Linked DNA regions of Homo sapiens. The protein of the gene in region 2 interacts with the protein of the main gene of each other region in a pairwise test. Each region holds a gene or a part of one and is shown on either strand. Other genes may lie near its edges. The genes, in order: KLK6 and ARMCX4.

Evidence for each region.
Region 1: the proteins of ARMCX4 (region 2) and KLK6 interact in binary tests that used the Homo sapiens proteins (3 or more experiments, as listed by UniProt).

What each region holds. Positions count from the first base shown.
Region 1 is NC_000019.10:50,959,282-50,963,091, forward strand, and holds part of KLK6 (kallikrein-6 isoform A preproprotein), read right to left. Parts: intron 2,600-3,810; coding exon 2,463-2,599; intron 36-2,462; coding exon 1-35. UniProt on the Homo sapiens protein: Serine protease which exhibits a preference for Arg over Lys in the substrate P1 position and for Ser or Pro in the P2 position.
Region 2 is NC_000023.11:101,484,103-101,488,531, reverse strand, and holds the start of ARMCX4 (armadillo repeat-containing X-linked protein 4), read right to left. Parts: upstream 3,077-4,429; 5' UTR 3,002-3,076; intron 2,510-3,001; 5' UTR 2,440-2,509; exon of another isoform or gene 2,434-2,439; intron 1,340-2,433; 5' UTR 1,260-1,339; intron 925-1,259; 5' UTR 841-924; intron 525-840; exon of another isoform or gene 489-524; 5' UTR 433-488; intron 89-432; 5' UTR 1-88.

The DNA.
Region 1 (3,810 bases), on a different chromosome or scaffold from region 2:
TGGTCTCCACATACCAGCGGACCCCCAGAATCACCCTGCAGGAAAGAGGGAGAAAGTCAGATACAGATAGAAACCCAGAGACTGTGTGTGTGTGTGTGTGTGTGTGTGTGTGTGTGTGTGTGTGTGTGACAGAGAGAGAGGTAGAAAGGGACAGAGGTACTTACTGAAAGATGGAGAGAAAGACTCAGGGACAGAGAGACAGAGAGAGAGACAGTAAGACACACAAAGGCACAGAGAGAGAATGGTAGAGAGAGAATAAAGGAGACTCAAAGACACAGAGATAGGAATGCCAAGATGCAGAGGAACATAGAGAGCAAGAAAGAGAAACAATTTAAGAATGGAGACTGAGAGGTGTGGAGAGAGGCAGAGGTGTAGAGACCGATGGAGAGAGAGGAGGAGGAAGAGGAGAAGGAGGAGGAAGAGGAGAAGGAGAGGAGGAAGAGGAGGAGGAAGAGGAGGAGGAGGAAGAGGAGGAGGAAGAGGAGAAGGAGGAGGAGGAGGAAGAGGAGGAGGAAGAGGAGAAGGAGGAGGAGGAAGAGGAGGAGGAAGAGGAGAAGAAGGAGGAAGAAGAGGAGGAGGAAGAGGAGGAGGAGGAAGAGGAGGAGGAGGAAGAGGAGGAGGAGAAGGAAGAGGAGGAGAAGAGGAGGAAAAGGAGGAGGAGGAAAAGGGGGAGGAGGAAGAGGAGGAGGAGGAAGAGGAGAACGAGGAGGAGGAAGAGGAGAAGGAAGAGGAGAAGGAGGAGGAGGAGGGGGAAGACGAGGAGGAGGAGGGAGAGGAGGGGGGAGGAGGAGGGGGAGGAGGAGGGGGAGGAGGATGGGGAGGGGGAGGAGGATGGAGAGGGGGAGGAGGATGGGGAGGGGGAGGAGGGGGAGGAGGAGACGATAAGACCCAGGTGGGAGAGGTAGGGAGGGCCCAGGGAGAGATATGCCTGGCACTATTCTGTCCAGGGACACCTCTCCACCTCGTGTCTTGAGGACAGTCTCGCCCACCTGCCCTTTCTTTGCGTCCAACTTGCTATGTATCGCTTTCCCTGTCTCTGTCCCTGTTTCTGCCTGTGTCTCCGTTTCTGCCTGTGTCTCCCCCTTGGTTGGTCTCTGCACATCCCTCAGTGCATTAGTCATTCTGGCATAAAGAGGAGAGCCTGGATGGATGACAATGGAGGAAACCCAAGTTAAAGTATTCGGGAGGGAGTCCCCTTTCCCCAGCTAGTGTCTCCCTCCTCCAGAGCCTGGTCGTTTCTGAGCAGGACTCGTGGGGGCTCTGTTTGAGGAAGGACAGTCCCCTCACACCATCTGCTTCCTTACTACTTCTCTTTGGTTCTTTTTGTTTTTAGACAGAGTCTGGCTCTGTCCCCAGGCTGGAGTGCAGTGGCGTGATCTCAGCTCACTGCAGCCTCTGCCTCCTGGGTTTAAGCAATTCTCCAGCCTCAGCCTCCCGAGTAGCTGGGACTACAGGTGTGTCCCACCATGCTTGCGTAATTTTTGTTTTTTGGTTTTTTTTTGAGACGGAATCTTGCTCTGTTGCCAGGCTGGAGTGCAGTAGCATGATCTCGACTCACTGCAACAACCTCCGCCTCCAGGTTCAAGTGATTCTCCTGCCACAGCCTCCTGAGTAGCTGGGACTACAGGCGCCTGCCACCACGCCCAGCTAATTTTTGTATTTTTAGTAGAGATGAGGTTTCCCCATATCGGCCAGGCTGGTCTCAATCTCTTGACCTGGTTATTCACCCACCTCGGCCTCCCAAGGTGCTGGGATTACAGGCATGAGCCACTGTGCCCATCCTAATTTTTGTATTTTTAGTAGAGATAGGGTTTCACCATGTTGATCAGGCTGGTCTCGAACTCCTGACCCCAGGTGATCCTCCTGCTTCGGCCTCCCAAGGTGCTGGGATTACAGGCATGAGCCACTGTGCCCATCCTAATTTTTGTATTTTTAGTAGAGATAGGGTTTCACCATGTTGATCAGGCTGGTCTCGAACTCCTGACCCCAGGTGATCCTCCTGCTTCGGCCTCCCAAGGTGCTGGGATTACAGGCATGAGCCACTGTGCCCATCCTAATTTTTGTATTTTTAGTAGAGATAGGGTTTCACCATGTTGATCAGGCTGGTCTCGAACTCCTGACCCTAGGTGATCCTCCTGCTTCGGCCTCCCAAAGTGCCGGGATTACAGGCATGAGCCGCTGCTCCTGGCCTCTCTGGTTCTTGATCCCGCGGCCTCCATCCTTGTCTCTGCACTTCCTGTCTCTGCTGGCTGTGTCTTTATATCTCTGCATATCCCTGACTGTGTCTCTGTGTGTTGAACTAAGTCTCTTCTTTTCAAGGCTTGGGTTCTCCCTCAGCCTGTCTCTATCTGTCTCTGTAAAGCTCTCTTTTGGCCTGTGTCTCTCTCTTCCTGTGTCTGGCCATGTTTTTGTGACTTCGTCCTGTCCCTGGCTGTGTAAGTGGCAGATCCGGGTCACCTCACCTGGCAGGAATCCTTCCCGTACTTCTCATCCCCAGCACACAACATGTTCTGGGTGATCTGGCCAGGGTAGGCATGCTCACACTCCTCACGGGACACCAGGTGGATGTATGCACACTGGATGGTGTCAGGGAAATCACCTGTTAGGGGAGAGATGGGCCAGACTCAGCCCAGGCCTTGCACTCCCCTCATCCTCCCCAGTCACCCCCCAACCCCTATAAGTCCTCCATCCTCTATTGGTCCCTCTTTTCTATTGGCACCCCTCTTCCTGTTTGTCTCTCATTCTTACATCTCATTACCATCGTCCCTGCCTCCTAATTGGTCCCTCTTTCTATCATTCTTCCCCCCCATTGGCTGTCTTCCTCATTAATAGTCTCTTCTCCAGGAGTCCTCATTTCCTATTGGTTTTCCTTTTCTCTTAGGTCCCTCCTCCACTTTTCTCTCTTCCACTGGTCCCACCTTCTTCAGTAGTTTCAGTTGACCTGGAGGACTCTTCCTCTGTTACGCCCTCCTCTACTGTACCCCTCCTGATCAGTAGTCCATTCTTCATTGGACACTTCCTGCCCATTGATTCATCTTGATTGGTCACTCTGTGACCATTGGTCTTTTCCTAACTGGCCATGCCCTCTCCCATTGGTTCTTCCTTTCTATTGGTTCTTCATCCAATGGTCCACCTCCATCATTGGTCCTTTTCTAACTGTCCCCACCCTCCCTCATGGATCCTCCCTTTCTATTGGCCCTTCCTCCAATGGTCTACCTTCCTCATTGGTCCTTTCCTAACTGGCCCTGCCCTCCCTCATTGGCTCTCTCTTCCTATTGGTCTGCTTCCCTCCTTGGTCCTTTTCTAACTGGCCTCACCATCCCCCACTGGCTCTCCCTTCCTATTAGCCCTTCATCCAATGGTCCACCTCCCTCATTGGTCCTTTTCTAACTTGCCGCATCCTCCCCCATTGTCTCTGCCTTCCCACTGGCCCTTCATCCAATGGTTCACCTTTCTTATTGGCCCTTCACACACAGGCCCACCTTCATGGATCCTGCTGATCTATTGGACCTGTTTTTTCCTCTAGTGACTCCTCTGGACCATTGATCCTTTCCCCTTAGTCCCTCTTCCATCAGCTATACCCCCATTCACTGTCTCAATTCACATCCTTCAGTTGGCTTTTGTGCTTTATTGGTTTCTCTTCTTCCATCAGTTCCTTCTCCATTATTCCTTCCTGCTGTTCAATGAATCCTGATCAGTCCCCTTTGACCTTTGACATCCTTCCTGATTAGCATCTCCCCACTGACCTTCCCTCTTTATTGAACCTTCATCTTATGTTCCATCTCTCCCATGCTATTCACCCATTGGTCT
Region 2 (4,429 bases):
AAAGAGAGTGGTAGTTGTGGGTGTAGGCCTGTGAGGGTGCTGGTCTTCAGCCACTCAAAGGCCACTACAGCTGCCTCTGGAGGTGGACCTAGAAGTGGAGGAAGGAAATGGACTAAAATTTCTCTTCTGATTTTGTTGCATCATACAGATAGATACACAGAGGAACAGAAAATGGTAGAACCATGTGCTTGGTGGAAGAGAGGATGATTAGCAGCCTCTCCATTCCTCTTATTTCATCTTCTCTCCACCTTCCCCAATGCCCAATAATTTTCTTCCAAGATACTTCTATACACATTTCTATACACCAAATGAACAGTGGAAAGGATGGTAGGAGGTCTGACGATAAATGGGAGCAACCAAGAAGTCCCAGACTTTGATTTCTACTGGACCTACTCTGGTCACCTGTCTACAGGGCCCCACCCTCATACCAACCTGTAATGATCCGAGGCAGTTCCCTCCTCTCCTCTTGCTTCTCTTGGCAGTACACCCTAAAGTAGATACATAAATTCATGAGATCTCTGGACCTAGAGACAGACAGACAGATGGAGGGACAGATGGGAGTAGAGAGTTTGTTCTTGATGGGACAGACATATTATTAGCAAACTACCTTTCTACGTTTCTCAGTCCACCCCACTCCCTAAGACACTGTCACACTCTTTTCCCTGTACCAGAATTAAGGTGAGGGTATGGAGTAAATGACAGGGATGGTGGGAAAGGTGGCTGGAAAAGGAGAGACTGAGGATCCTCATCCTCCAGACTGGTCACTGGTCCTTACTGGATGCACACTGGTCTCCACCAACCCACTCTAGAGGTCTACCCAGGCAGTCCCCACACTCTTACCAGTCTATACTGATCAGGAGCAATCTCCTCTTTGTTTCTTTGCTTCCAGTGATCTTAAGCCCTGCAGCAGACATGCAGGCAGATCTATGGACAAGTAAACAAACAGTAGGTAATGGAAACCGAGTCCCTGGTAGAACAGACAAGCAACCTGATCCCTGACCCCAATGTCTGCCTCGCCAGAGCCCAGGTTCTATATACTAATGTGTACCATCTCATGGTCCCCCCATCAAGTCTTCCCCCAGTCATACTCCAGCCCACCCTTACCCCCATATTCCTATCATTTCCTGCACTGAAATCCACAGGAGGCATGGCAGCACTGTGGCAATCCAGCACTCCACTGAGACCCTCTTAAATCTCACCCACCTCCTATGCCCACCCTCTCTTGTCATCCCCAGAGACTACCCCCACTTCACACCAACCTCCATGCTTCTAGATTGATCTCCTCCTCTTTCCCTTGCTTCCAATGGTAAACAGCCCTACTGCAGGCCTATGGGAAGACCTTGGAACAGATGGAGAAAAAGAAGAGAGTGGATGTTAAGTACTTGTGACACTTACCATCTAAGACATAGGTCCCTGTACCTGCCTGCCTGGATTTAGAGACCCATTTGCTGGCAGAAAAAAAAAAAAAAAAAAGCCTGGGGCTTCCCCAGCACTGAAATGGGAAGGATGGAAAAGGGAGGCAGGAAAAGTAAAAGGCAACAGACAGAGGCACGTTATTTTATTTTATTTTATTTTATTTTATTTATTTTATTTTTTATTTATTTTGAGACAGAGCCCCACTCTGTCACCCAGGCTGGATTGCAGTGGCAAGATCATGGCTCACCACAGTCTCGACCTCCCAGGCTCAAAAGATCCTCCCACCTCAGCCTCCCAAGTAGCAGGAACTACAGACTGTGCCACCATACCCAGCTAATTTTTAAATTATATGTAGAGATGAAGTCTCGCTATGTTGCCCAGGCTGGTCTTGAACACCTGAGCTCAAGCAATCCTCTTGCTTGGGTCTCTCAAAGTGCTGGGATTACAGGCAAGAGCTACTAGGCCCAACAAGGCAAATTATTTTAAAACCACCTGTAGGGTTCTAGGGATTTCCCCAAAAGCCCACCATTTCCTTCACCAAGATGGTCAGGTAGGTAGAGGGATCTGGAAAACTGAAGGATGGCAGGAGAGATGGGAGACCCCAGATCCCATACTCTAGAACCACAACCTACTGCTGTCCACGTCCCTTTCAACCTATCTCTAGGAGTCTCCAGCAGAAGAGAAAAGCTATAGGGGAAGCCTTTTGCTTCTACAAAATCACTATCCTTCCCCACCAAAGGCTATCTAAAAAATAATAATAATAATAATATTCTTTAATATAATTTATCTTTTTCTCAATATTATCTGAAATGCAAATAAAAGCATCTGTAGAAAAGTTTGCTGTCTTCATTGGTCTTCAACATACAATTTAAAAGTCCTAAGCTTGGTAAGTAAAATGCAGTTTAGGGAAAGTCCCCAAGCTAGCCCCACCCCACATCCCATTCAGACAGCCGCACCTAAGTTCCTGTCATAGAATTCATATGGAACTCCAATGGTTTAGATAGTGTCTGTACTCACACTAACCTCCTTGATCCAGTGCAGTTTTCTCCTCTCCTTCCTTTCTCCTCGCCGCAAACAGTGCTACACCGAACTACTGTCCGACAGACAGGAGAGAGTAAAACCACTTAGTGTTGGTCTAGAGCCCAGGACATAGATCCCAATACTCGCCTTTCCGGGTTCAGGAACCTGGTTATCAAACGTCCCTCCCCACAGTCTGAGACACCACCCTTACCAACCCCACCGTCCAGTCTCTAAGGCCCACCATTTTCTCTGCAAACGCCACCGTGGCGCATCCCTTCCACTAAATTGAGCAGGAAGCGAGCGGACATGTGTGGCCAGTGATTAGAGCGATGGGCATCTCAATCTCTGTATTTCCCTCTGGCAGAGACAATCTCCCCACAAATCAAAGCCCACGGTTCGCCTGCACAGATGTAGGCGGGGGCAAGGGGGCTAGGGAGAATCAGAGGCAAAGGCTCCTCGAACTTGAGGCAGCATAGACCACCGCCCCCTCAAGCCCCGTAACCGCTGCCGGGGTCAGTGAGCTTCTGCCGGCCTGGCCAGGGCGCGCGGGCCCCAGGGCCCTTACCTGCTCCGCTTTCCCCGGGCCCGATGCCAGCCCGCCGAGCGCAGGGCAGCGGGGAGCTGGTAGCCAGATGCGAGTGACGACTGCAACGAAGGCTGCGTAGCTCTGCAGCTCCGGGTCACGTGAGGACCGCGCGTCACCGCCGAGCTCGCCCTCCTCCCCAGCACCCCCTACCACCCACCAAGGGCCGGCGGCCAGTCACCAGGAACTCCCCCCTCCTCCACTCCGCACGCACAGACATCCCCGTTCTCTGGTCTGTGCTCGGTGCCCCAGTGCGCACGCGTTGTCACTCATCTCCGTCCTCTCCAATCTGAGGGCCCACAAGTGGCATCATCGCCTTGTGGTTGGAGTTTACCCATCTTCAGTTACAGGGGAGGGTCTGCATCCCCCTACCCACTCCCGGCCCTTGGCTGTGGCCTTTTATGTTTCTTCTTTGAGTAATCACTTATTTCTCTCTTAGACTATAAGACCAGCACTCCCCACCCGCCCCCTACACGACCTGCCCTCTCTAAGTACAATGCCTGCACCAAATGGGCTGTGGAAGGGGGTATCAGGAAGGAAAGCAGAAGGTGCAAGTAGAGCTTTAATTTTCTTTTTCGTGTTCCTTTTTTTTCTTTTAATATGACATTCTTTTCTAATATTGTAATCAGAAAATACAGTATAGCCATTTTCATTTGACACAAAAAATATTCAGGGTGTAAAAATAACAAAAGACTCATTCTTTTGTTTACATTATTTTGTGCCACATTTTAAAATGTCTTCTGTTACTGCAAACTATTTTACAGCTTTCAAAATTGACTAGTAATTCTTGACATTTTAAATACAAAATTGTCCTAAACAAAACCAGCACGTATTCAATATGATCTATAAGTTAATCTTTGGAAAGACATTTCGTTTTCTAATATTGACAATTTTACACAGGTGATTTGTAACTTTTGAAGTTCTGGCTGAACTCAGCATCTTTTTTCAGGTGTCTAAGACCTTCTTCAGAGAAGACTTCTAGAGGATATATTTAAGACCCAACTCCTGATGAGCCTAGTGCTTTACTAGTGACTTACCAAATTAACCTGCTTTACTAGTGACTTCCCAAATTAACCTGTTTTCCATTCAAGGGGCTTTATTTGGATTTTACATAAGCATGTAATCAGATCAGCCTCACCACACCCATGGAACAACCAACTGCTAGAGCTTGGATGGAAAGGAGACTTAACAGGTGGAATTTTCATCCGTCGTAACACTTGAGATCTCGCCGGTGTCTGCCATTCATGTACTACATACTACCCTAGCAGTGGCGAGTGTTCAATATTTTCCAGTGGAGATGGTGGTGAGGGTCTGTGGATGACTGTGAATCACTGCAACACACCTGATGTCCGTGTCATTATTTTTTTCCCTCACAAGTGGAAGGGCAATGTACAGGATCCCAAGCAATTG